Linked DNA regions of Homo sapiens. The protein of the gene in region 1 interacts with the protein of each later gene in a biochemical or structural test. Each region holds a gene or a part of one and is shown in the gene's direction. Other genes may lie near its edges.

Region 1 (3,500 bases):
CATTTTTTTAGTCTGCTGTTATTTGCCTCACAGATATAATAACCTAGTCTGAGGATGGCATTTTAAAAAAAGTCTTCCTCTGTTCCGTCTTGTTCTGTACCTTCTGTGCTCTCTGCATTCATTTTATTCATTTTTGTCTTTGATGCATGGCCCTTCTTCAGATATTTGGTGATTCTTGGCTGTCCACTAAATATTTAAGAATAGGGTATTAAATGCCAGGCTCATGTGGGTAGGACTTACTGATTGCTGGGTTTTCTCATAGCTTGAATAGGTAGGGACTTGTCTGTTTTATTACTGTATACCAAATGCTAATAATAACAAATATGTTTTCTTGGATCAGATATTTGCTCCAGAAGAAACCTTCCCATTTCCTTAAAGGCCTTAGCTTAGCTGCCAGTGCTCCAGGAGCTGAGTGGAGAAAAGAGATGCAAGTCTCACTAGTTAGTATGTTGACTTTGTCTTAGCCCCCATGTTTTCCTTAGGATGCCTTATCCCTGCCTTGGTGTCCTTGAGAGCAGAGCTGGTTCAGCCTTACTAGAGTAAATTATAGGTCTTATTCCCCAATATGGGTGAGTTTAAAAGCTTCTTACTTCAAGCACTTGTCCTGTTTTCAGCTCATCTCTCACTTCTACCTTGAGCAGTTCCCTGTGTTTCCAATTTCTAAGGCTTCCCAGGCTTTGTATGCAGATGTTTATTTTTTACTGGTTTCTACCCCTATAGGCTTAGGTTTTAGCTTTCTCTTGTAGGCTTAGTCTTTATTACTGTTTATCTATTGTCATCCTTGGTGACTCCTCTTGATTACTGCTGTCTCTTTTGTTCTTTTTGTCTTTATATGCCTGTTTTATTGCTGATGTCATTTTAGTGATGTTTCAAGAGTTGGAGACAAAAGATTTAATCTGTTACATTTAATTGGAAATGTATTTTGACTTTTCTAACCTTCCTTTATAGACATCCCTTTCTCCATCCTTTGTAATTGTACTTGTTACTAATACAGTATAATTTTCATTTTTGTAGCCTGTCTATTTTACTTTTTATATTTTGTTTAATCAAGTTTTCTCCTATTTTTTCATATTTGAACAGATACTCTTTTTTTTCCCCATGAACCTACAAATCTAGAAATAAAAGTATTAGAATGCTAAAGGATTAGTATTTTTCTAGAGGAATGGTATCTTATAATAGTTTCTTGTTTCAAAATAAATTACTGATTTGTATTTTCTCCCATATTATCCATGCCCTTTAAGGTGTAAGTCTGGTTTTAGAATGCTAATTTGTGACCTGTGTTAGAGAATTGCATATTGGAGTCCTTCGCCTAGAGGATTAATAGCTTATTTATTAAATATGACTTCTTGGGAGCAGGCATGTCCAAGTAATGGCTGTCACTTATGTTGAAAAAAGTGGTAATAATATATGGATACATAGAGAAGTTTAAAAAAAATACTTCAGGCTGCATGCAGTGGCACATGTCTGTAATCTCAGCACTTTGGGATGCTGAAGCGGTAGATTGCCTGAGCTCAGGAGTTCGAGACCAGCCTGGGCAACATGGCAAAGTCCTGTCTCTATCAGAAATACAAAAATTAGTGGGCGTGGTGGCATGTGCCTGTGGTCCCAACTACTTAGGAGGCTGGGGTGGGAGGATTGCGGGACCCCAGGGAAGCCGAGGCTGCAGTGAGCCGTGATGGCATCACTGCACTCCAGCCTGGATGACAGAACGAGACTGGATCTCAAAATATAGATAAATTTAAAACCCCGCCCCCCCAAAAAAACACAAAAAACAAAAATGAAAAGGTAGTTGCTATGTAAGATTTTTTTTTTAGCAAGCATATTAAAGATAAAATGCTATGATATTTTATTAAATGAATTAAGGTGTTTGTTGTTAAAATGTCTTCTATTTTAGGACATATAGCAACATAGTTGCTTGCTGGTTTATGAATAGTGCTTAAATATTACTTCCTCATGGTCTAAAATAGTGTCCCTCACCCCACTATCACTCACTGCACCTATATTTTGCTTTATTTTTCTTCAAAACAGTATCACTCCTTCTGACTATATTTATTAGTCTATTTTCATCAACTAGATTAGCCTTTGTTTTATTCATTGCTGTGTAATGAGTGTCTAAAGCAATGTGTAGCACGTTGAAGGTATTCAGTAATTTGTTAAAAGAATGAAAGAGTAAACATTTGCCGCTTATAAAAGGAAATATGCCAAATTTCAAGTAGATATTGAAATTATTTGAAATAACTCATGAGATATAGAGGAAGGCAAGCTGTTACAATGTAGTCATATGCAAATGATAATATTAGAAACTTGAGTTACTGATTTGGGTTCCAAGACCATCTTAGCATTTCTGTTTTGTGCTGCAGGTATCTCCTCCTCATGTCAAAAGTATCTCATAAGTGAAGTTCATTGGGAAGATTTTCATGTATTTTGACAATTTTATAGGTTGGAGAATTATAGATAGGACAATTTACTTTGAAAGACACACCTTTAAAAAGCCTCTCTAACTTTTCTTAGCTGGATGAAAAAGAAAGTCGGCGTCTGTTCCAACAGATCCTTTCTGGTGTGGATTATTGTCACAGGCATATGGTGGTCCATAGAGATTTGAAACCTGAAAATGTCCTGCTTGATGCACACATGAATGCAAAGATAGCTGATTTTGGTAAGGATAATTTTATAGTTTCTTAACGTTCATTTCTAATGTTCTTATAGTTTCAATGAACCTACCTAGAATTCTTCAGATAACTGTAAAAGATTACATAAAGTAATAGACTGAGTATATCAAAGTATTCTGTTTTGTCTATGAAGATACAAAAAGAAGAAAAGCTAAGAAATCATCTTTTCTTAGCTTTAAATGTCTTTATTACTATTATTTTATAGAGGCAGGGTTTCGCTTTGTCGCCCAGGCTGGAGGGCAGCGACGTGATCATAGCTCACTGCATCCCCAAACTACTGGGCCAGGTGACCCTCCTGCCTCAGCCTCCTGAGTAGCTGGGACTGCAGGCGTGCACTACCATGCCAGGCTGTTTTGTCTTTTTGTAGAGACAAGTTCTCACTATGTTGTCCAGGCTGCTCTTGAACTCCTGGCCTCAAGTGATCTTCCTACCACAGCTTCCCAAAGTATTGGGATTACAGGTGTGCACCACTGCACCTGGCTCTTTAAATATCTTTAAAATTAAATTTTAAACAACTTAAGTTGGTAGTATTAGAGAGACTATTTGAAAAGAGTATTATTTGTGAAAGAGAAGGTAGCAGCTTTATTTCCAGTATGTTCAAAAGAATCAAGTATGGAGAAGAAGGAAAGTGAGTGGGATGGAATTATTTAAAACCTTAAAAACCAGAAGTGAACTATGTGAATTTAATTATTTAAAATTATTTAAAACAATTTTTTAATTAAAAAAATTTATTTAAAAATTTAAAAATGTTTTAAATGATAGTAAATTATAATTTGTTTAAAGAACATTTTGATTGTTAAAAATGAATTTATTTTGGCTGGGCGTGGTGGC
Region 2 (3,500 bases), on another chromosome or scaffold:
TCTACTTCCTGGGCTGAAGTGATCCTTTTTTTTTTTTTTTTTTTTTGAGACAGAGTCTCTCTCTGTTGCCCAGGCTGCAGTGCAGTGGCACAGTCTCGGCTTACTGCAACCTCCACCTCCCAGGTTCACGCCATTCTCCTGCCTCAGCCTCCCGAGTAACTGGGACTACAGGCGCCCGCCACCACGCCCGGCTAATTTTTTGTATTTTTAGTAGAGACAGGGTTTCACGGTGTTAGCCAGGATGGTGTCGATCTCCTGACCTTGTGATCCGCCTGCCTCGGCCTCCCAAAGTGCTGGGATTACAGGTGTGAGCTACTGTGCCTGGCCTAGATATTTTAAAAGCAGTGGCGGCAGCAGCATATCCTGGTGACAGAGATGGCAAGGATGGCTGAAGGAAATAGTGCTCAGGACCCTCCTGACATTCCCACTTGTTCCCCATGTCTCAGTTACAGGCCCAAAAACTGCGACTGGCATACACAAGGAGCTCTCATTATGGTGGGTCTCTGCCCAATGTTAACCAGATTGGCTCTGGCCTGGCCGAGTTCCAGGTGAGTAGACCCCAGCCAGGGAGGAGTGGAGTTTCTTAGGCTGCTTCCTCTGCTGACTTCTGTCCTTTTTGGCAGAGCCCCCTCCACTCACCTTTGGATTCATCTCGGAGCACTCGGCACCATGGGCTGGTGGAACGGGTGCAGCGAGATCCTCGAAGAATGGTGTCCCCACTTCGCCGATACACCCGCCACATATCCTTCACAGGGGACTTGGGAGTGTCTGAAAGGTAGTGGGATGGGGTTCCTCAGGGACTCATAGGAAGCACTTGAAGTGTTGTGCGTCCCTTCCTTCTCTTGGAGCTCTTCTTTACCCAGCTTCCCTGAAAAGCGACCATAGCCCCTGCGTCAGCACCTGCTCCTGTGACAAGGAGTTTTGCTCCTGAGGCTGTGCCCCCTGTCTCTGGCTGGCTCTGGCTGTCTTCACATCAGCTTGCTGCCAGAGGCAAGCCTTCCTTGTCTCCTGCTAAAGGAGATTGGGTCTCTTCTCAGATTTCTAAGTTTTCAGTCTCAGAGACCTGCATAACTGTCTCCTCCAAGCCCTGCCTGAACATTCTCCTGGATTTTTTCAGCCCCTTTAGACCTGATTCCCTTTTTCTCTTCCATTCTTTGATCCTATTGTTGTCCCTTATAGAAGAGGAGAAAGGTATGAGTTTCTTGAAACAACTTATCTGCTGCCTTCATTGTTCTTTCCTCATTTGGCCTCTCTCATCTGTCCTCTCTACTTTTTTCCTTAACTGGTGCTGTTCACATTGACAGCTCTCCCTATAGTCCTGCCTACTTATCTCCTCCCCCAGAGTCTAGCTGGCGAAGGTAAGTGTCCAGGGCGGGCAGAAGCTCCTGCCTACTCTCTGACGTGTTTCTGGAAGGAGTTGCCCCTTCTGGGTTGGGGCTGGGATTACTGGGCTAAGGTTTCAACAGTACCTCTTCCTATAACGCCAGGGCTGAGAGAGGTGGAGACAGTTGGAGTAGGTGGGTCAGAGTCCAGCCTTGGCCATGTTGACACTAGTGGTCAAGCCTCCCAGTCCAGCCAGAGCAGAACCAATGGGAACCATAGCCAGGCTGGGGTGTGTGTGTAAGGGGGAGGGGAGAATGGCAGAGGGGCAGGTGAAAATGGCAACCTTCTGTCAAGGGTGGGTGCAAGATGTAGTGTTCTGGCACTTTTAGATTTCTTAAACTCTCCCCTTGTCCATCTCACTTTCAATGCTCATACCCAGGAATGCTGCTGGGCTCCAAGATTCCCATTCAGCTGGTCCTGGCAGAGAGAAGTTTCCAGCTCTCTTAGATTGACTGGGGGAGGGGTCAATCATAGGCAGGAGAAGAACCAGAAAGAAAAGGGGATGATCTGGGTGCTCAGCCATCTTTACTTCCACCTTAGCTGCCCCACATTTTCCAACCCCTATGCCCACCTTCTTGTCCACTGCCAGCCTTCCTCCTCATGACTTTGTTTTTCTACCCCAGGACGATGGCCTGGGGCAATTTCCCTGCAGAGAAGGGGCAGTTGTTTCGACTACCATCTGCACTTAACAGGTGATGGCTTTTGCCTTCTTTAGGCCAGATCTCTTATCTGTAGTTTCTGGGGCCCTGCTCCCTCACCCCCACCCTGTTCCAGACCAGCTAGTGTTTTCCCTTGCTGGGCAGGGCTTAGGGACCAGGAAGACTGTCACTGGTGTCAGCTCATTCCTGCTCCCCCCATAGGACAAGCTCTGACTCTGCCCTTCATACAAGTGTGATGAACCCCAGTCCCCAGGATACCTACCCAGGCCCCACACCTCCCAGCATCCTGCCCAGCCGACGTGGGGGTAAGTGGCCCTGTCCCAGGGTTGGGAGTAACCATGGAGCTATTTATTTATTTATTTATTTATTTATTATTTCTTTCTTTTTTGAGACGGAGTCTCACTCTGTCGCCTAGGCTGGAGTGCAGTGGCGTGATCTCGGCTCACTGCAACCTCCGCCCTCCGAGTTCAAGCGATTCTCCTGCCTCAGCCTCCTGAGTAGCTGGGATTACAGGCATCTGCCACTGTGCCTGGCTAATTTTTTGTGTTTTTAGTAGAGATGGGGTTTCACCATCTTGGCCAGGCTGGTCTTGAACTCCTGACCTCGTGATCCACCTGCCTCGGCCTCCCAAAGTGCTGGGATTACAGGCATGAGCCACCATACCCGGCCTCCATGGAGCTATTTAAAGCAGGTAGGCAAGTGAGCACTGCAGCCAATGCCACTGTATCCCTTGCAGGTATTCTGGATGGTGAAATGGACCCCAAAGGTATGTGTTCCTCACTGCTGTGGGTACTGAATGCCAAAGAATTTCTGGGCTGGTGTTGGGATTGTGTGCAGGTTCAGGGAGCAGGACTCCTTCCCACCTGCTTCTGCTTCCTGTCCTGCCTTACTGGCTCTTTCTCCAACTCTCCCATCACCAGTCTTTCTCTTTCAAGTACCTGCTATTGAGGAGAACTTGCTAGATGACAAGCATTTGCTGAAGCCATGGGATGCTAAGAAGGTAGGAGGAGGCCACCGGGTGTCACCCACTAGTCTCTCTGCTATCCCCTTGCCATGGGGCAGGCCTTCCAGGGTTCTCTGCTGAGCACTGTCCTCATTTTCCATATTCTCCCTTCTCTCCTCAGCTATCCTCATCCTCTTCCCGACCTCGGTCCTGTGAAGTCCCTGGAATTAAGTAAGTACTCCCTGAGGTTGGCTGAGAGGTGGGGGAAGGAAGTACAGGGAGATGTAGGAGACTGATCTCTGCTCTTCCCTGACCACTGCACCCACCCTCCTATTTACATCTTTCTTTTTCTCTCCTTCCCCTAGCATCTTTCCATCTCCTGACCAGCCTGCCAATGTGCCTGTCCTCCCACCTGCCATGAACACGGGGGGCTCCCTACCTGACCTCACCAACCTGCACTTTCCCCCACCACTGCCCACCCCCCTGGACCCTGAAGAGACAGCCTACCCTAGCCT
Region 3 (3,500 bases), on another chromosome or scaffold:
ATGTTATTTTTTCTGAACCTGGATATTTAAGTGTGAAGATTATACAAATCTGAAGTGTGGCAGTGTTCTTATATTGATGTAGAAGACTAGGTTGACTGATCCTGGACCTACAAGCTTCATTTTAACTTCCTACATTTTGGCTTTGAGGGTTAACAGGACATTTATAATCACATATCTCTTTTCAGAGTATTTTACATTTGCAAATATTATCATGAACTTTGTGTCCTTTTAACCAGAGAGGAATTGTGGAATCACAGGAATTAGATGATGTGTTAAAGAAGAGAGATAACTATCAGCTGATTTAATTTGAACCCAACAAGTATCTAATAATATGCATACTCTGTGTTCAAATAAACCTCTAAGCTAGACTTTCAAGCTTATCAAAATGCTAGACTATTTTCAGTGTTTAGAAAATACCAGCCAGGTGTGGTGGCTTATGCCTGTAATCCCAGCACTTTGGGAGGCTGAGGCAGGTGAATCACAAGGTCAGGAGATGGAGACCATCCTGGCCAACATGGTGAAACTTTGTCTCTACTAAAATACAAAAAATTAGCCAGGCGTGGTGGCACGGGCATGGTGGCCACCCGCCTGTAGTCCCAGCTACCCAGGAGGCTGAGCAGGGGAATTGCTTGAACCCGGGAGGCACAGGTTGCAGTGAGCCAAGATTGCATCACTGCATTCTAGCCTGGCAACAGAGCAAGACATCGTCTAAAAAAAAAGAAGAAGAAAAAAGAAAATACATAGTAAAATTTATTGGCTTTTTAAATGGATAATTTCATATAGTCAGTCAGTGCCGGCTTAGATCCATTTGTTAGAGAACAATGCTAATGAGACCTCTTGATACTTTGTGTTCCTCTTATGTTTTCCTAGCCTTGACGTTAGCAACTAACAATGATAACTAACATTATTGAGCTCTTATGTGCCAGGGACTATTACAATAGATTTTCAATTATTATCTCATTAAATCTTCATAGCAGCCCTATGAGCTAGATACTGTTACTACCTATATCTTAACAGATGAGGAAATTTGAAACAGAGCAGTTATTTGCCAAGAGTTTCAGAGCTATTAACAGAAGCCTAATACATGTTCTTGGACTTTGCAGAAATAATTTGTTGATCCATGCGGTTTCATTGCTACTGCGGAAAGTAAGTCTCTTGGCCATTGTGATGGGTCAAAATCTTTGTACATGAAGGGTATGACTGTTGTTCCATTGTATCCAGAGAGTGAATCTTGTGATTGAGTTGGGATTTGAGGTGGCAGTGTATACTAAGTTTGAAAAGTATATTATCATATGTTAGCTCCCTTTAGAAATTTTCCCCAAGAAGAGCTATTACATTTTTTAATATTAAAAAAGCATAAGATATGGCCATAATACAATTAGTTCCACAAGCCATACACACTTTTTTCTTATGGCTTAAAATTTTATTCATGTTTACTACTTTGCAACCCACTGATATAAATTATTTCACAGATCCTTTATTCAAATGAAATTCTCAGTGAGTCTGAGAAGATAGTCTTAAACACAAGCTAGCTGAGTTTACAATAGAGATTATACTATAAATGGTAACTTCAATGTTTATTGAAAATAAATTCCTTAAAAACAGGTCTTGTTTCATTCATTTAAAGAGATTATCAATATATGACTGTTAAATTTTTATAGTCTCCCTGTTCATTTTCTGATGAACACATGACAGAAAATTGAATGTGAGCTGGAAATACAGCAGACTATGAGAAAGCATGGGTCATGTATAATCACTTTAAATTTAGGCTGGTGTTTTGTATTCATCTATAATATGACCACCTCAGGGAGGGATGTAAGTAAACATTCTTTTTTTAGTTATACTTTAGGTGGCTTAATTATTTTAAAGAATATGTTATTCAAGAATTGTCTATTGTACTGTTTTAAAGAATAAGAATATAATTCATTACCAACTTTGAATGTCTTGGATTCTTAGTACTACCTTTTTCTTTATCATGACTAGTAGGATCACATCATAATTTGGTACTGTGTGTATAAAGATGAAGTGTGCTTACCTTTATTACCAAAATTCAGAAATGAAAATGTGAATGATAAAAGATAAGGGATGGCTATATATTTTTTTGTTTTTGTTTTTCCAAACAGAATCTCATAACTTACCAGGCTTTAGAAAAACATCTTTGCAGTATGCCATCATACCTCAGAATGTTAAGTAGATAGGAAATAAAATTTTCACTTTTTGTAAAGCAGTAGGGTATTATCCTTTCTGACAGCCTGTAAGACTGTTTTGGTTGCCAAGGGGCCAATCTTAGAAGTGGCAGTTTTTGTTTTGTGACCAACCCACAGCTTACCCTTTGTTAGTCCATATCTGTCATCTTCATTTTCTCTTTCTGCGTAAATGCTTCTTGATACAGTAAGCAGGTGTTTCAACTAGTCAGCCATCTAGTGTGATCTTTTCTGGTTTGCTACAGTCAGTAAAATAAGTAGCTCTATAAGTGTAAATAGTATTACTTGTTTTATGTAGTAAAACTCCAAGATTAAGTTAGAGATATTTTTGGCTAGACTACATTGAATGCATTGACAATGGATTTCCCAGCTCCCAGAAATTCGTTTGTGTCTGAATTACTTTATACTTGGCTTATTGTGTAGAGAAAACTTTAGAAAAAGTTCATCCATCCATGAATGTTGAATGAATGAGCAGATTAATAAATAAATAGCTCAGGGAAAGAAAATGTGTGGGCTTTTAGTCATAACTATGTTTTTTCTCTTTTGTTCCCTTCCTTATGTGCCATTTTTCAATAATGGGAGTGTGTATCTAATGATGTTGATAAACTTTTTAAAGTCATTGATGAACAGTAATCTGAAAATCAAGTTTTGATTAAGCCGTAGATTTCTTTTAGGGTCCAATATTTTCTTTTTAGAAATCCACTATGATATTTTTGTAGGGATAAAAGACAACCATGTATTCTATAGATGGAAAATGGTAGGATACAGTTTGTTGGCCGGCCAACTTCTCTGAAAATACTTTTTCCTGCATAGAAGATAATCAGTGTTGACAAGGGAGAAGCCAAGGTATAATGGCTGTTATTCATCTGTCTCATGTATTCGTCAAGTGTCATGTGTTAAATATGAACAAAAAAGACATAATCTCTTTCCTCCTGGATCTTAAAATCTAAAGTGAGAGATAATTCACCAGATAAATGCTGCGATAAGGGAAATAGAGGATTCTATGAGCTTATGACTAAGGATAGATCTGTTTCCTCAGATGTGGAACTAAGAAGTGGCAGTAGTTGAGAAGTTCATTTTGGGCCATGCGATTTGAGGTGTGGCTATTCAAGTATAGGAGGTAGGTGGTTACACATTTTTTAAGCTATTAAATAGAACTTTCACTTGAAAAGGTTTTTTTCTCTCTTTCCTCAGCATCTATCTCCCTACATACACAAAAAAATTGCATGTCACAATTCATGAACTCAGTGAGTGACTCTATTTTGAAAAATGTTAGATTATATCAACTGAAGTCTG
Region 4 (3,500 bases), on another chromosome or scaffold:
CTCCCGCACTCCCTCCCTTTCTTCCCTCCCTTTTTTCTGCCTGTCTCTTTGCCATTGAGAACCATATTGTCCCGAACATTCTGGTGTCTTCTTATCTGTTTGCAAAAATTTCTCTGAAATATAAATCTAAGTGAAAAGTGCTGTATCCATATAGACAAATGTTTCACTTGAATTGTTTTCTAAAGAGATTATATTAATGTATTAAGAGTTCCTGTTGATCCAAATCCTTTTTGACATTGGGTATTACTAGATTCTTCATTTCTGCTGACTTAGTAGGTATAACATCATCATGATTAGGATTTCCTCTCCTGTAAAACGCTTGTTCCTATTTCTTGACATTTTTTATTGGGCCATGTGTCTTTTAAAAATGTTTAAATTTTAAATAGTTGATCTTTTAAAGCTATTCTGGATATTAATTTTCTGTTGGTTATGTATGTGGCAAATATCTTCTCCCAAATTGTGGCTTGTTCTTTCGTTTTCTTTATGGTATTCTTTGTGAAGCTGTGTTCTCATTTTTTTTTTTCTTTTTTTTGGGGGGGACGGAGTCTCGCTGTGTCGCCAGGCTGGAGTGCAGTGGCGTGATCTCAGCTCATTGCAACCTCCACCTGCCAGGTTGTGTCGCCAGGCTGGAGGGCAGTGGTGTCATCTCGGCTCATTACAACCTCCACCTCCCAGGTTCAAGCGATTCTCCTGCCTCTGCCTCCAGAGTAGCTGGGAATACAGGTGTGTGCCACCATGCTCAGCTAATTTTTTTTTTTTTAGTAGAGATGGGGTTTCACCACATTGGTCAGGATGGTCTTGATCTCTTGACCTCGTGATCTGCTTGCCTCGGCCTCCCAAAGTGCTGGGATTACAGGTGTGATGTGTTCTCAATTTTAACGTTAAACTTATTAATCTTATTTTATAGCTAGAGTTTTTTGTGCCTTGTTTAAGAAAACTTTCCCTACCCCAAAGTCTTACAGATAGCCTCTTTTCTCCTAAAAACTTAGTGATTTTATTTTATATTTTATTTGGTTTGACAGGTCTCGCTTTGTTGCCTAGGCTGGCCTCCATCTCCCTGGGCTCAAGCAATTATCCTGCCTTAGCTTCTAGAGTGGCTCGGACTATAGGTGCAGGCCACGAGACCTGCCTGGCTAAAAAGTTTAGTGTTTTGACTTCCACAGATCAGATCTTTTATGCCCTGGGCACCATAGTGAGACCTCATCTCCTAGTTAAAAAAAAAGATGGCCATGTGAAGATACATACAAACAGGGAGAAGTCGGCCGGGCGCGGTGGCTCACGCCTGTAATCCCAGCAGTTTGGGAGGCCGCAGCAGGTGGATCACGAGGTCAGGAGATCGAGACCATCTTGGCTAACACGGTGAAACCCTGACTCTACTAAAAATACCAAAAATTAGCCAGGCGTGGTGGCGGCTGCCTGTAGTCCCAGCTACTCGGGAGGCTGAGGCAGGAGAATGGCGTGAACCCGGGAGGCGGAGGTTGCAGTGAGCCGAAGTCGCGCCACTGCACTCCACCCTGGGCGACACAGCGAGACTCTGTCTCAAAAAAAAGAAACAAACAAACAGGGAGAAGCTCTGTGATGGCGAAGGCGGAGACTGGAGTGACGCAGCTGCAGGTCAAGAACACCAAAGATGGCCAGTATGGCCAGTAGCCACCAGATGCTAGGATAAGGCAAGGAGGGGGGACTCCTTGGAGTTCCATATTGGAAGAGGTGGTGTTGGGAGGGCCACCTCCCCTTTCCTCTTCACCCCAGGCCTGCCTTGTCTTGGAAGGGCCTCGTGTGGGCATCCTGCTAGCTTGTCCAAGCTCGCTATTCCTGGAAGGCTGCTCCTCAGCCAGTTCACGGCTATAGGTGTGCCAGTGTGGGAGGACCTGGGTGGAAAGAGGCCTGTGTGTGTCTTAGAAGTGGGCACCAGACCCTTTGGCTGGGAACTCTGGGGTTCTGGATACCCAGAAGGTGGTCCAGAAGAGGGTATATGGGGTGTGGTTGGGCTTGCCTTGGCCCCAGGGTCTCCTCATTTCGTGGGGGAAACTCCAGCCATGGTTCTGGTATTGGCCACAGCCTCCTCTTGCTGTTTATCTAAAGCCTGGATGACCAGGTGGGGGCTTCCTGCCAGTAGAGGAAATCTTCTTGCTTTAAGGGCTCTTTTTGTTGAGTTTGGCCATGAGGACAGGGTATTGGTAAATGTGTACTTGTGTTTCAAGTGCTTGCCAATATGCAGGATGGAACTCTTAAGTATCTCCACTCTGCAGGGTGGTCACATGAATGTATACATGTGACAAGACTGCATGGAACACGTGCTCACATGCGCGCACACACACACGCTCATGTACACATGTGCACACGCACACACACGCACGGACACACACGCACACCCACACACACACACACCTGCAGGTAAATGCCTTGAAATCTGGACGAGGCTGATGGATGGTATCAAGTCAGTTTCCTGGCTGTGACACTCTCCTGTAAGATGTCACCATGAGAGGGAACTCGGAAGAGTATGTGAGATTTTCCTGTATTTCCACCCTGTATCAGCATTTGAATCATGTATAAGAGAAAAGCTAAAAATACAAATCTCTGGTGCCAGGCCTGTCTCTAGGAGACATGGCCTCTTGGCCATGGCCCCCGCGACCTCACTTGTTGGCAGCACCCAGGTGATTCTGTGCACAGCTGGTCGGATGGTCAGGACTCACTGTTTAGGGGAAAGCTGAGACCATGGGAGCTGTGCAGCCCCCACGTGCTGATGGGTTCATCATGACCTGGGAGTATTTTCAGTTGGTGTGTACCTGCAGTCCCTGCCTTCCCTCATGGCTCCTTCCCACCCTGTTCTTTGTTTTCCTCTCTCTCTCCTTCCCTCTTTCCCATATCTTCCTATGTATTTTTCTTGGAAAGAGCTTCTTTTTTTTTTTCTTTTTTTTTGACATGGAGTCTCTCTCTATCGCCCAGGCTGGAGTGCAGTGGTGTGATCTCGGCTCACTGCAAGCTCTGCCTCCCGGGTTCACACCATTCTTCTGCCTCAGCCTCCCGAGTAGCTGGGACTACAGGCACCCGCCACCATGCCCGGCTAATTTTTTGTATTTTTAGTGGAGACGGAGTTTCACAGTGTTAGTCAGGATGGTCTCGATCTCCTCGATCTCCTGACCTCGTGATCCGCCCTCCTCAGCCTCCCAAAGTGCTGGGATGACAGGCGTGCGCCACCGTGCCTGGCCCGGAAAGAGCTTCTTTTAGCACCACTTTGGGTGGACCATTCTCCCATTGCGGGTTCTGACCCAGGATGGCGGTTGGTGGTGTATGTCTTTTGGGGCCGAGCTGAACTCAGCATTATAAATTAGTTGGTTAAACTGTCTTTGTGTTTTTGCATTGCAGATGTTAATCAGCTTCATGTTGTTTTCTAGTTGTTAGAGTTGGAAGCTTGGCAGTTGGCCTCCCTTCTTCCCATGGAGGACGGGGGCTTAACAGCCTTTGAAGAGGACCAGAGATGCCTTTCCCAGAGCCTC
Region 5 (3,500 bases), on another chromosome or scaffold:
TTAGCTGGGCGTGGTGGCGGGTGCCTGTAGTCCCAGCTACTCAGGAGGCTGAGGCAGGAGAATGGCGTGAACCTGGAAGGCGGAGCTTGCAGTGAGCCGAGATCGCGCCACTGCACTCCAGCCTGGGCAACAGAGCGAGACTCCGTCTCAAAAAAAAAAAAAGAAAAAACGAAACACACACAGCCCCACCCACTCAGCAACCCAGGCTGGGACTTCCCATGGAGGCAGGGTGGTCAGCCCTGCAGAAAACCAGAGGTCAGGATGGTGCTGCTGCTTGTTACTGAGGCCACCACTCCCAGGAGAAGGAAGGTTCTCAGTGCTGGGAAAGAGGAAAGTATAGAGCTGGGTGCGGGGGGCCCAAGGCTTTCCCCCAGAGCCTTGCCTCTGACCTCTGCAGGAGGTGGCTCTACTGGCCTCTCGATTCCCATCAGAGTGAAGTCCTGGCAGGTGAGGGAAGGACCCAGGTCCTTGTCCTCCCCTGTGAACCTTTCCCTGGCTTTCTTTTCTTTTCATTTTTTTCTTTTTGAGACAGAGTTTCACTCTTGTTGCCCAGGCTGGAGTGCAATGTCGCGATCTTGGCTCACTGCAACCTCTGCCTCCCGGGTTCAAGTGATTTTCCTGCCTCAGCCTCCCGAGTAGCTGGGATTACAGGCATGCATCACCACACCCGGCTAATTTTGTAATTTTAGTAAAGATGGGGTTTTTCCATGTTGGCCAGGCTGGTCTTGAACTCCTGACCTCAAGTGATCCTCCCGCCTCGGACTCCCAAAATGCTGGGATTATAGCCACCAACGCTTGGCTCTCCCTGGCCTTTCAGTGGGGCTCTTTGCTAGCCAGAGCTCTTGGCCTGTCCTCTTAGGGAACAGTGCCCCTTCGTCTACCCTCTTTTTTTTTTTTTTTTTAGATAGGGTCTCGCTCTATCACCCAGGCTAGAGTGCAGTGGCATGATCTGGGCTCATTGCAACCTCTGCCTCCTGGGTTCAAACAACTCTCCCTGCCTCAGCCTCCTGAGTAGCTGGGATTACAAGTGCCCGCTACCGCACCCAACTAATCTTTGTATTTTTTAGTAGAGATGGGGTTTTGCCATGTTGGCCAGGCTGGTCTTGAACTCCTGACCTCAGGTGATCCGCCCGCCTCAGCCTCCCAAACTGCTGGGATTACAGGCATGAGCCACTGCGCCTGGCCCAGGTTCCCTTTTTTTTAAGAGACAGCCCTGGGTAACTGGCCACCACGCCCCGGGCCTGTCTATCCTCTTCTTTTCCCAGAGGTTCCCCAGCCTTCCTAGTCCACCAGGAGGCGGCCAAGAGCCTCTTCCTATCATGACACAACCACTTCCCCTTCCAGGTGCTTGGTGCTGATGGCAACTGCTGCCACCTGCTCTGCTCATGCCAGGCTGGCAGAGGGCACAGATCCTTGAGAGAGTGCAAGGCCCGCCAGGCTCCAGGGTCTGTGCCTGGGCAGACTCTATTCATGGGGCTCCATGCCCCTCCTTTCCCTGACTCAGGCAGAGTAGCCATGGCCCCTTCCACTTTGGGTGGAGCAGGTTGCTACCTGGCAAACCCCTGGGGTGCTGCATGTCACCCAGTCCCTGCAGGTCCTGCAAATTAATATTCTGGAGTCGCCTGTGCTTCCTGTTTGCATGGGAACGAGGCTGCATGGCAGAGCCCTCTGCCTGCCCTGCCACCTGCATACCAATAGGGCTGTGGTTCCCGCTGCAGCTCCGGGCCTAACATCTCTGCTGCTGCAGTGGCAGTGACAGGCTGGTGGGAGATTCCCCTTGCCTGAGCCCATGTGCTCTCTGCAGGGCTCCTGCAAGGGAAGCCAGTACTGCTGGCGACAGTTCCAGCCCTAGGCAGGGTTATCTGCTGGGAGCCAGGAGTGCTTGGACCTCTGCCCTTCCCTGGGCAGGCAGGCTGGAATCTGGCTCCTACAACCCCGGCATTGCCGGGAGCAGCAGGTTGACGGCTGTCCATTGCTTGGCTGAGTGATCAGAGTGCCACGGGCCAAGCCAAGCTTGACTAAGAACAGATAACCCTCCGGCCAGCTCAGGGCCTTGCTGAGCACTTCACGGGCTGGGGAGACCTGAGCTGGCTGCCATTTCCTTGCCACCATCGTGGGCTGTGGCTAGTTACCTCCAGGAAGGCCTTCTGCAGTTTCCAAGGACCCTTTCTCCTGGTGCTGGGGCAGGACATGGGTTGGGAATGAAGATGAGTATGTGTAACCCCACCCTCTGGCCACATCTGGCCACTTCTGCACATGTGGCTCTGGCCTTGTGGCCACAGAGTCGTCAGTATGGCTGGCGGGAAAACCACAGAGGAATGTTCCCAACCATGCCTGGGGGAGAAGAGGCTGGTGGGGACTGCTACATCATGCTGAGCTTTTACCTTCTCCCACCCCACCCTGCCTGCAGGGGGTTCCAGAGGCCATACTCCAGGCATGTGGGTGGCATGGCCTTGGCCTCGGCCTCCAGCAGGCCTTGCTCCTGCCTTGGTGACACCCATTCAGTGCTAGGTTCTCTGGAGAGATCCAGACCCATCTAAACAGGTGTGGGGGCCTCTCTTAGCCCACCCTTTGCCACCTCCTACCTCCCACCTCCCTCTCTTCTCTTTAAAAATTGTTCGGCTGGGTGTGGTCACTCATGCCTGTAATCCCAGCACTTTGGGAGGCCGAGGCGGGTGGATCACCTGAGGTCAGGAGTTCGAGACCAGCCTGACCTACATGGTGAAACCCCGTTTCTACTAAAAATACAAAAATTAGCTAGGCCTGGTGGTGGGCGCCTGTAATCCCAGCTGCTTGGGAGGCTGAGGCAGGAGAATTGCTTGAACCCAGGAGGCGGAGGTTGCAGTGAGACTCCATCTAAAAAAAAGGCCAGGGGCAGTGGCTCATGCCTGTAATCCCAGCCCTTTGGGAGGCCGAGGCGAGCGGATCACCTGAGGTCAAGAGTTTGAGACCAGCCTGGCCAACATGGTGAAACCTTGTGTCTACTAAAAATACAAAAAAATTAGCTGAGCGTGGTGGCGGGTGCCTGTAATCCCAGCTACTTGCGGGGCTGAGGCAGGAAAACTGCTTGAACCCAGGAGGCAGAGGTTGCAGTGAGCCGAGATTGTGCCACTGCACTCCAGCCTGGATGACAAGAGCAAAACTCCATCTCCAAAAAAAAAAAAAACAAAAAAAAACCAAAACTTGTTTTTTGTTTTTTTTTTCCCTCTCTCGCCTCTTAATGCTGGGGGGTGGTCTGGAGAGAGGCCAGCTCATGAAGGCAGAAGATACTGGTAGCCAGAAGGATTTCGGGGTCCTTTTTTCTCAGGCCTGGGCTGGAGTGGGCCACTTTGCCACAGGAGTCTTCCCAGCCCCTCGTGACCTCCCTGGGCTGTAGCGAGGAGAGTGAGGGCTTTCTTTGGAGAAAGAAGTAGAAGAGAAACAGGAATGGGTTGGCCTGCCTCTCTCACTTCCGCCTTCCCAGGCAGTGGTATCCTGCCTTCCCCTTCCTGGCTGGAGAC
Region 6 (3,500 bases), on another chromosome or scaffold:
TCTATTTCTTGGTTATGTAACGGAAGTGTCCACTTCCCTCTTTTCCAGCTTAGGAGCTTTAGTGTGCTCAGTTGAACCCCAAAGTATACATACGTGAGCCCAGCACTATCACCTCACTAGGCATCCAGCAGGTCCCTGGGTAAGGGATCTTTGAAAGATCTGGAAAGAGGGATGGGACATCTAGTTAGAGGCAGGTCTCACTCAACAGCCAGAGGGAAGGGGCAATCAGCAAGTGGGTGTGACATTTCCCCCGAATACTCAGCTATCCAGGTCCTGATGAAGCTCGGCTCTTGGGCACCCTGCAAGTGTCCTTGCTCAAGGTCTTTCTCTCAGTACACTGGGTCCAGTGGAATATCTAAGAATTATCTGGATCCAGGGATAAGATGAAGGCCTTGGATTTCATGCCTCTCTTTCCATCACCATTAAGTCTTTTGCCATTTCTAACTTTTCTTTTATCATTTTTTTCCCATAATAATCCTCAATAAGGATTTCTGCAAGGAAATTCCTAATAACCCTTTAGACAAGAACACAAGTAGAAAAAAAAAAAAAGTTGTTCTTCTCCTGCAGGGGAAGCAGGGCTCAGGCTTTAGACAGATAGTGCCAGATCTTATGAGATAATTTTCACTGATTATGGGTCATGACCACATTAGAGGATTAGTTAATTGGCTTCTCCTGTTAACATCAACAATGACAACCACCACCAAAAGGAAAAAAGCAAAAAACAAAAAAAGCTAGCTTTCATACAAAAAAATAGGGTATCTTCTACTCTGTAGCATTCAAATGAAGAATATAGGAAACAATGAAGAATTAACTGAATAATCTTTACAATGCAATGCAAAGTAAATTACAAAAATAAGTAAATCACTATAGCTACACATGAAATCCGCTTGCACTTACTGTGCATCCACGGTTTCAGTCCAATTCAGGTACATTAATTGTATTTATTCCTTACAAGATTTTTATGAGTTATTTTTAGACCCATTCTAAAGATGAGTACACCAACAGGTTAGAGTTGATAAATAACTTGGCCTAACATCATACAATTGTTACTAAATGTTATACGAAATCTTTTTTTTTTTTAATTTTTTTTTTTTTTTCAGACAGGTTCTTGCCCCATCGCCCAGGCTGGAGTGCAGTGGTGTGATCTTGGCTCATTGCAACCTCTGTCTCCTGGGTTCAAGCAATTCTTAGGCCTCAGCCTTTCAAGGTAGCTGGGATTACAGGTGTGTGCCACCACGCCCAGCTAATTTTTGTAATTTTACTAGAGACGAGGTTTCTGCCATGTTGGCTGGGCTGGTCTGGAACTTCTGGCCTCAAGCAATCCCCGCCTCAGCCATCCAAAGTGCCAGACTACAGGCGTGAGCCACTGCGCCAGCTTCTTTTTTGGTTTTTACATTTTTCCTTTTGGCTGTTGTTGTCAACATTGTTAACATGAGAAGCCAATTGCCCAGTTCCCTAATGAAGATCCACCACTGTCTTTCTAAAACTTCAGTTCTGCTTACCCTACAGGAGAGAATAAACTTTTTTTTTTTTTAAGAGATGGAGTCTCACTCTGTCACTCAGGCTGAAGTGCAGTGGTGCAGTCTCGGCTCACTGCAACCTCCGCCTCCCGGGTTCAAGCAATTCTTCTGCCTCAGCCTCCCCGGTAGCTGGGATTACAGGTGTCCACCACCACGCCTGGCTAATTTTTGTATTTTTAGTAGAATTGGCCAGGCTTGTCTAGAACTCCTGACTTCAGGTGACCCGCCTGCCTTGGCCTCCCAAAGTCCTGGGATTACAGGTGTGAACCACTGCATCCGGCCAGATAAGCGTGTTTTATGTTTTTTCTCCTTGGGTTCTTGTCTAAAGGGTTATTAAAATTTTTCTGAGTTTTTAACTTTTTCATTTCATTATTTTTTTCTATAATAAACCTCAATGATAATTTCCAAAAGGAAACTATATTGCTATTTCTCCTTCTTACCTTGCAGCATTAGATGAAACCTATAGAACACTGCTAGGTACTAATGGAATTAATGTTGATTCTGATCTTATTAAAAGAAGTCTGTTGTTTTTTAGCTTCTGTTCTTTAGCATATGTTAAAAGTCTCATACTATTTGAAATATTTGCATAGACTTTTAAACCGGAATGCCTGCTGAAATTTGTTTTTCAGAATTTATTTATATAATTACAGGAATTTTCACCTCTAATTTGTTAGCATTTGAAGTCTATTGATGGATTTTTATCATGTGGAACCATATATGCATTCATGGAATAAGTACAACTTGGTAGACTTATTTTAATATATTGCTTGATTTGGTTTGCAAATGTCCATTTCCTGGCGTTCTAGTTAATTGAAATACTTGCTTTCCCCAAAGCAGCAACACCAGTACTTTTTCTTTCAATAATAACATTGGTGTTCATATTCTAAAATATCTAGCTTTTCCTGTGCCAGACTTAAAGGTTAGTTATATTTTAATACTACATGTTTTATGCAGCTCCTTAAACCTCAAATCAGAACAACACTAGTGATAGTTGTCTCCATATGTTCTCATTAGAATTCTACCAAATATCTGGCTGGGTAGCTGCCCTCGTCAGGTGGAACATGTAACCATCAAACTGAAGCATGAATTGGGGATTACAGCTGTAATGAATTTCCAGACTGAATGGGATATTGTACAGAATTCCTCAGGCTGTAACCGCTACCCAGAGCCCATGACTCCAGACACTATGATTAAACTATATAGGGAAGAAGGCTTGGCCTACATCTGGATGCCAACACCAGATATGAGCACCGAAGGTAAGGATCAGAACTGTTCTGCCTCCTTGCTGTATTTCAGAGAAACCCTTGCTGTCTGTCTGTCTATCTATAATTTAATATCTTAAAAATGAATGGTAGAAATGGAATAAATATAAGATTTTAGATTTAATATATATAATACATATGTTTTGACACTGTGGCTAAGATTCTGTTTAATGTGGCTTCTTTGTTTATTCATTCAACACATATTTATTGTGTATGTACTGGGTATGCGGCATTATGCTAGTAGCTAGGAACACAGCAGTAAAGAAAGACAGGCACAACTTCTGCCCCCACGGAGCGCATTGTCCTATAGGGATGGCAAATGTTAATCAAATGACTAAAAATAGAAGTTTAAAACTATGATGAATTTTTTGTTAGAAAATATATAGATATTGCTATGAGATTATGTACAGGTAATCAGGCCAAGAAGTGGGGTCAAAGAGGGTTTTCTTGGAAAGTAGTGTTTGGGCTAAGATCTGAGGGTGGGCTGGAGGAAGAGTGAGTGGAGGGAGTGACCCAGGCAGAAGCAGCAGCTTAGAAGAATCCTTGTGGCAGGAGAGAGCACAGAGTGTTGCAAAAACTGAAAGACCAATGTGGCTTGGATCAGAGAACGAGGAAAGATGATCCTGCAGGATTTGAGCGACAAAAAGGACTTTAGACGCTATCCTATAGCAGGAAGAAGCAGTTGTACAGTAAGACGAGTTCGACACTAATTACAGCA
Region 7 (3,500 bases), on another chromosome or scaffold:
TGCATTCATACCTAGGACTTTGTGCACATCATTGCTCAAACATTCTAGTTGTAATTGAACCATTGACTGATTAGATTTGACATAATATTCTGATGATGGGTGTGTCCTTGGAATGAGAAGGGAGTCCTTTTGATCAGGAAGGACCTTTTACCAGTAAAGTGGTAATAGTATTTAGAGAGAAGTCTGTTTAAACTTAAATGGGTGATTTTTGTCAAGTTTAAAGTGAATTTAGAGCTTATTTGATTAGATTGGATTAAGATCTGGTAAGTGACCTCATGAATTATTTTCCCTAAAATTATGTTGTTCAAGAGAATGATGGGGGTTAGTTAGCACAACTTCTTCAACTTGAGAACTAAAGATTTTTTTTTTCTTTTTCTTTTTTTTTTTTTGAGACGGGGTCTTGCTGTGTCACCCGGGTTGGAGTGCAGTGGTGCGATCTTGGCTCACTGCAACCTCCGCCTCCTGGGTTCAAGCGATTCTCCTTCCTCAGCCTCCGGAATAGCTGGAATTACAGGCACGCGCCACCAAGCCTGGCTAATTTTTGTATTTTTAATAGAGACGAGGTTTCACTGTGTTGATCAGGCTGGTCTTGAACTCCTGACCTCATGGTCCACCCACCTCGGCCTCCGAAAGTGCTGGGATTCCAGGTGTGAGCCATTGTGCCCGGCCAGTGATTTTTTTCAATTAAAGATAACTAACTTATTAATTATTAGGCTCAGTCTATAGAGCTGAATAAAGATGTATGAAATTGTGAGGATGTGTTTACATGGGCCTTATATCTTACTTAAAACATCATTAAGTAGCTATAAAAAGAACCATCCATAATGGTTTTTGAGTGCTATGAACTTTTTTTTTTTTAATTATTATTATTTTTGAGACAGAGTTTTGCTCTTGTTGCCCAGGCTGGAGTGCAAATGGTGCGATCTCGGCTCACTGCAACCTCTGCCTCCCAGGTTCAAGCGATTCTACTATCTCAGCCTCCCGAGTAGCTGGGATTGCCAGCATGCGCCACTATGCCCGGCTAATTTTGTATTTTTTTTTTTAGTAGAGGCGAGGTTTCACCATGTTGGTCAGGCTGGTCTTGAACTCCTGACCTCAGGTGATCTACCTGCCTTGGCCTCCCAAAATGATGGGATTACAGGTGTGAGCCACTGCACCTGGCCAAGTGGTTACTCTTCTAAACACATACATGGTTTAACTTAATTGAATCCTCGAAACAACTTGAAGTAGGTTTTGTTACCATTTTACACATGAGGATACTGAGCACAGAAAAGTTAAATAACTTAACAAAGCTCATTCAACTAATAACTGGTAGACCTAGGATTTGAGCTCATGTAGTCTTACTTCAGAGCCCATATAGCCACATGACATCATGGTTATTGCTTTCCTATAACTGTCTACTTAAATGAATTATCATTGGTGGGTGGTGTCTTTTCATCTTAGGCTGACTTCCTTCCTATTTAACATACATAAGGATTCCACTTGTCTGTCAGTTAATTTGAGCTTGGGGGGTTCCAAAACAGTTTTGATAATTACTCCATGCAAAATATAATAAGGTAATTTTTCTGAATTATAAAGCCAACTGAAGTGATGTGAAAATTTTTTTTGTTGTTAGCCAGGCGTGATGGCTCATGCCTGTAATCCCAGCACTTTGGTAGGCTGAGGTAGGAGGATCCCTTGAGCCCAGGAATTTGAGACCAGCTCTGGCAACATAATGAGACCCTGTCTCTACAAAAAATAGAAAAATTAGCTGGGTGTGGTGTTATGTGCCTGTAGTCCCAGCTACTCTGGAGGCTGAGGTGGGAGGATTGCTTGAGCCGAGGAGGTTGAGGCTGTAGTGAGCTATGGTCACACTGCCGTGCTCTAGCCTGGGTGACAGAGCAAGACCCTGTCTCAAAAAAAGATTTTTTTGTTGTTGAAATATCCAAATTTCTACTTTCCTCCAGTGGCATGAATTAAGAACAGTGTGTGGTATATAGTCAATACTTAAGTAATTTTCATCCAAAAATGTTACTGTTTTGCTTGAAATTCCTATTTTATATGTATTCTCCCCTTATTTCTTGCCCTTCCTGCCTTGTGACCTGAGAAGTTTAGAAGTGTACTGCTAAAGCTATTGGAATTTAATAGATGAATTATAAGAACTTTCAAAAACATTTCCATGTTACTTATTGTTTTCTAAGAAAGTTTGATGAGTATAGGTATACACAATGGGAACTCTAAGGAAGTGTTGAGGCCTACATATATTTAGCTGTCTTTGCTATTAATGATATGTTTGTATTGTTTGCTCCTGAGAACAGAAAATATGTCTGTTCCATTAATGTTCAGTTTTTTTATGCATTTAATAAATGCATAGCATTGTGCTAAGTATTCTACTCAAAAATTTAAGATAGGATCCCTGGCCAACAAAAATCACTTGGGGATTACCAAATAAAACAATGTCTGATGTGTAATTGTGATTGCAAGTAGTGTTAGTAGTGTTGAGCATCATCAGACATGATGCCTTGGCTCAGGATTTCATAGCCTAAAACTTCTAAAAGGAATCTGTTGAGTTCTGTGAGGTCCTGCCTCAGGCTCCCAAGTGGCTGGAACTACAGGCGCCCACCACCACCCCCGGTTAATTTCTGTATTTTTAGTAGAGGCGGAGTTTCATCATGTTGTCCAGGCTGATCTTGGGCTCCTGACCTCAAATGATCCACCCACCTCAGCCTTTCAAAGTGTTGTGATTATAGGCATGAGCCACTGTGCCTGGCCTTTTTTTTTTTTGAGACCGAGTTTCATTCTGTTGCCCAGGCTGGAGTGCAGTGGTGTGATCTCGGCTCACTGCAACTTCTGCCTCCTGGGTTCAAGCAATTCTCGGGCCTCAGCCTCCCCAAGTAGCTGGGACTACAGGCGTGAGCCACCATGCTCGGCTAATTTTTTTTTTTTTTTTTTTCTTTTAGTAGAGACGAGGTTTCACCATGTTGGCCAGGCTGGTCTTGGACTCCTGACCTCAGGTGATCCACCCGCCTTGGCCTCCCAAAGTGCTGGGATTCCAGGTGTGAGCCACCGCGCCCAGCCAAGTTCTGTGAGGTTCTGACAAGGAAAATCTGGTCATATAATTACAGATAATCCCAGTAAGAATAGGAGGAAGTCAGTATGATTTTATGGGACTTAAAAAAAAATTAACTCAGTATGTATGAAAGTGGAAGGAAACAGGAAATACAAACAAGAATGAATATAAAACAGTAGTAGACTAAAACAGATGATGAACTGAGTCTGAAAAATGCAGGTGGGCACAGTGGCTCACACCTGTAATCCCAGGACTTTGGGAAGCTGAGGTGGGAGGATTGCTTGAAGCCAGGAGTTATGTGGACCAGTTTGGACCACACAGCAAAGACCCTATCTCTGTTAAAAAAAATTTTTTTTTTTTAAAGCAGCATGGGTAACATAAGGAGACCACATATCTACAAAAAAGATAAAAAAATTGACTGGGTGTGGTGGTGCGTGCCTGTGTCCCAGGT

Evidence for each region.
Region 2: of the proteins of PRKAA1 (region 1) and CRTC2, one has a biochemical effect on the other in vitro, tested with the Homo sapiens proteins (one study listed by BioGRID).
Region 3: of the proteins of PRKAA1 (region 1) and PPM1A, one has a biochemical effect on the other in vitro, tested with the Homo sapiens proteins (one study listed by BioGRID).
Region 4: of the proteins of PRKAA1 (region 1) and PASK, one has a biochemical effect on the other in vitro, tested with the Homo sapiens proteins (one study listed by BioGRID).
Region 5: of the proteins of PRKAA1 (region 1) and HDAC5, one has a biochemical effect on the other in vitro, tested with the Homo sapiens proteins (one study listed by BioGRID).
Region 6: of the proteins of PRKAA1 (region 1) and EPM2A, one has a biochemical effect on the other in vitro, tested with the Homo sapiens proteins (one study listed by BioGRID).
Region 7: of the proteins of PRKAA1 (region 1) and PSMD11, one has a biochemical effect on the other in vitro, tested with the Homo sapiens proteins (one study listed by BioGRID).

The regions. Positions count from the first base shown.
Region 1 is NC_000005.10:40,770,875-40,774,374, reverse strand, and holds part of PRKAA1 (5'-AMP-activated protein kinase catalytic subunit alpha-1), read left to right. Parts: intron 1-2,511; coding exon 2,512-2,656; intron 2,657-3,500. UniProt on the Homo sapiens protein: Catalytic subunit of AMP-activated protein kinase (AMPK), an energy sensor protein kinase that plays a key role in regulating cellular energy metabolism.
Region 2 is NC_000001.11:153,952,113-153,955,612, reverse strand, and holds part of CRTC2 (CREB-regulated transcription coactivator 2), read left to right. Parts: intron 1-446; coding exon 447-548; intron 549-623; coding exon 624-740; intron 741-1,296; coding exon 1,297-1,358; intron 1,359-2,006; coding exon 2,007-2,075; intron 2,076-2,243; coding exon 2,244-2,347; intron 2,348-2,640; exon of another isoform or gene 2,641-2,714; coding exon of another isoform or gene 2,715-2,733; intron 2,734-2,778; coding exon 2,779-2,808; intron 2,809-2,962; coding exon of another isoform or gene 2,963-2,977; coding exon 2,978-3,042; intron 3,043-3,166; coding exon 3,167-3,216; intron 3,217-3,350; coding exon 3,351-3,500. UniProt on the Homo sapiens protein: Transcriptional coactivator for CREB1 which activates transcription through both consensus and variant cAMP response element (CRE) sites.
Region 3 is NC_000014.9:60,255,721-60,259,220, forward strand, and holds part of PPM1A (protein phosphatase 1A), read left to right. Parts: intron 1-1,103; exon of another isoform or gene 1,104-1,146; intron 1,147-3,243; exon of another isoform or gene 3,244-3,500. UniProt on the Homo sapiens protein: Enzyme with a broad specificity. Negatively regulates TGF-beta signaling through dephosphorylating SMAD2 and SMAD3, resulting in their dissociation from SMAD4, nuclear export of the SMADs and termination of the TGF-beta-mediated signaling.
Region 4 is NC_000002.12:241,142,973-241,146,472, reverse strand, and holds part of PASK (PAS domain-containing serine/threonine-protein kinase), read left to right. Parts: intron 1-3,398; coding exon of another isoform or gene 3,399-3,440; coding exon 3,441-3,500. UniProt on the Homo sapiens protein: Serine/threonine-protein kinase involved in energy homeostasis and protein translation. Phosphorylates EEF1A1, GYS1, PDX1 and RPS6.
Region 5 is NC_000017.11:44,096,142-44,099,641, reverse strand, and holds part of HDAC5 (histone deacetylase 5), read left to right. Parts: intron 1-3,500. UniProt on the Homo sapiens protein: Responsible for the deacetylation of lysine residues on the N-terminal part of the core histones (H2A, H2B, H3 and H4).
Region 6 is NC_000006.12:145,634,521-145,638,020, reverse strand, and holds part of EPM2A (laforin), read left to right. Parts: intron 1-2,534; coding exon 2,535-2,776; coding exon of another isoform or gene 2,777-2,862; exon of another isoform or gene 2,863-2,941; intron 2,942-3,500. UniProt on the Homo sapiens protein: Plays an important role in preventing glycogen hyperphosphorylation and the formation of insoluble aggregates, via its activity as glycogen phosphatase, and by promoting the ubiquitination of proteins involved in glycogen metabolism via its interaction with the E3 ubiquitin ligase NHLRC1/malin.
Region 7 is NC_000017.11:32,447,510-32,451,009, forward strand, and holds part of PSMD11 (26S proteasome non-ATPase regulatory subunit 11), read left to right. Parts: intron 1-3,500. UniProt on the Homo sapiens protein: Component of the 26S proteasome, a multiprotein complex involved in the ATP-dependent degradation of ubiquitinated proteins.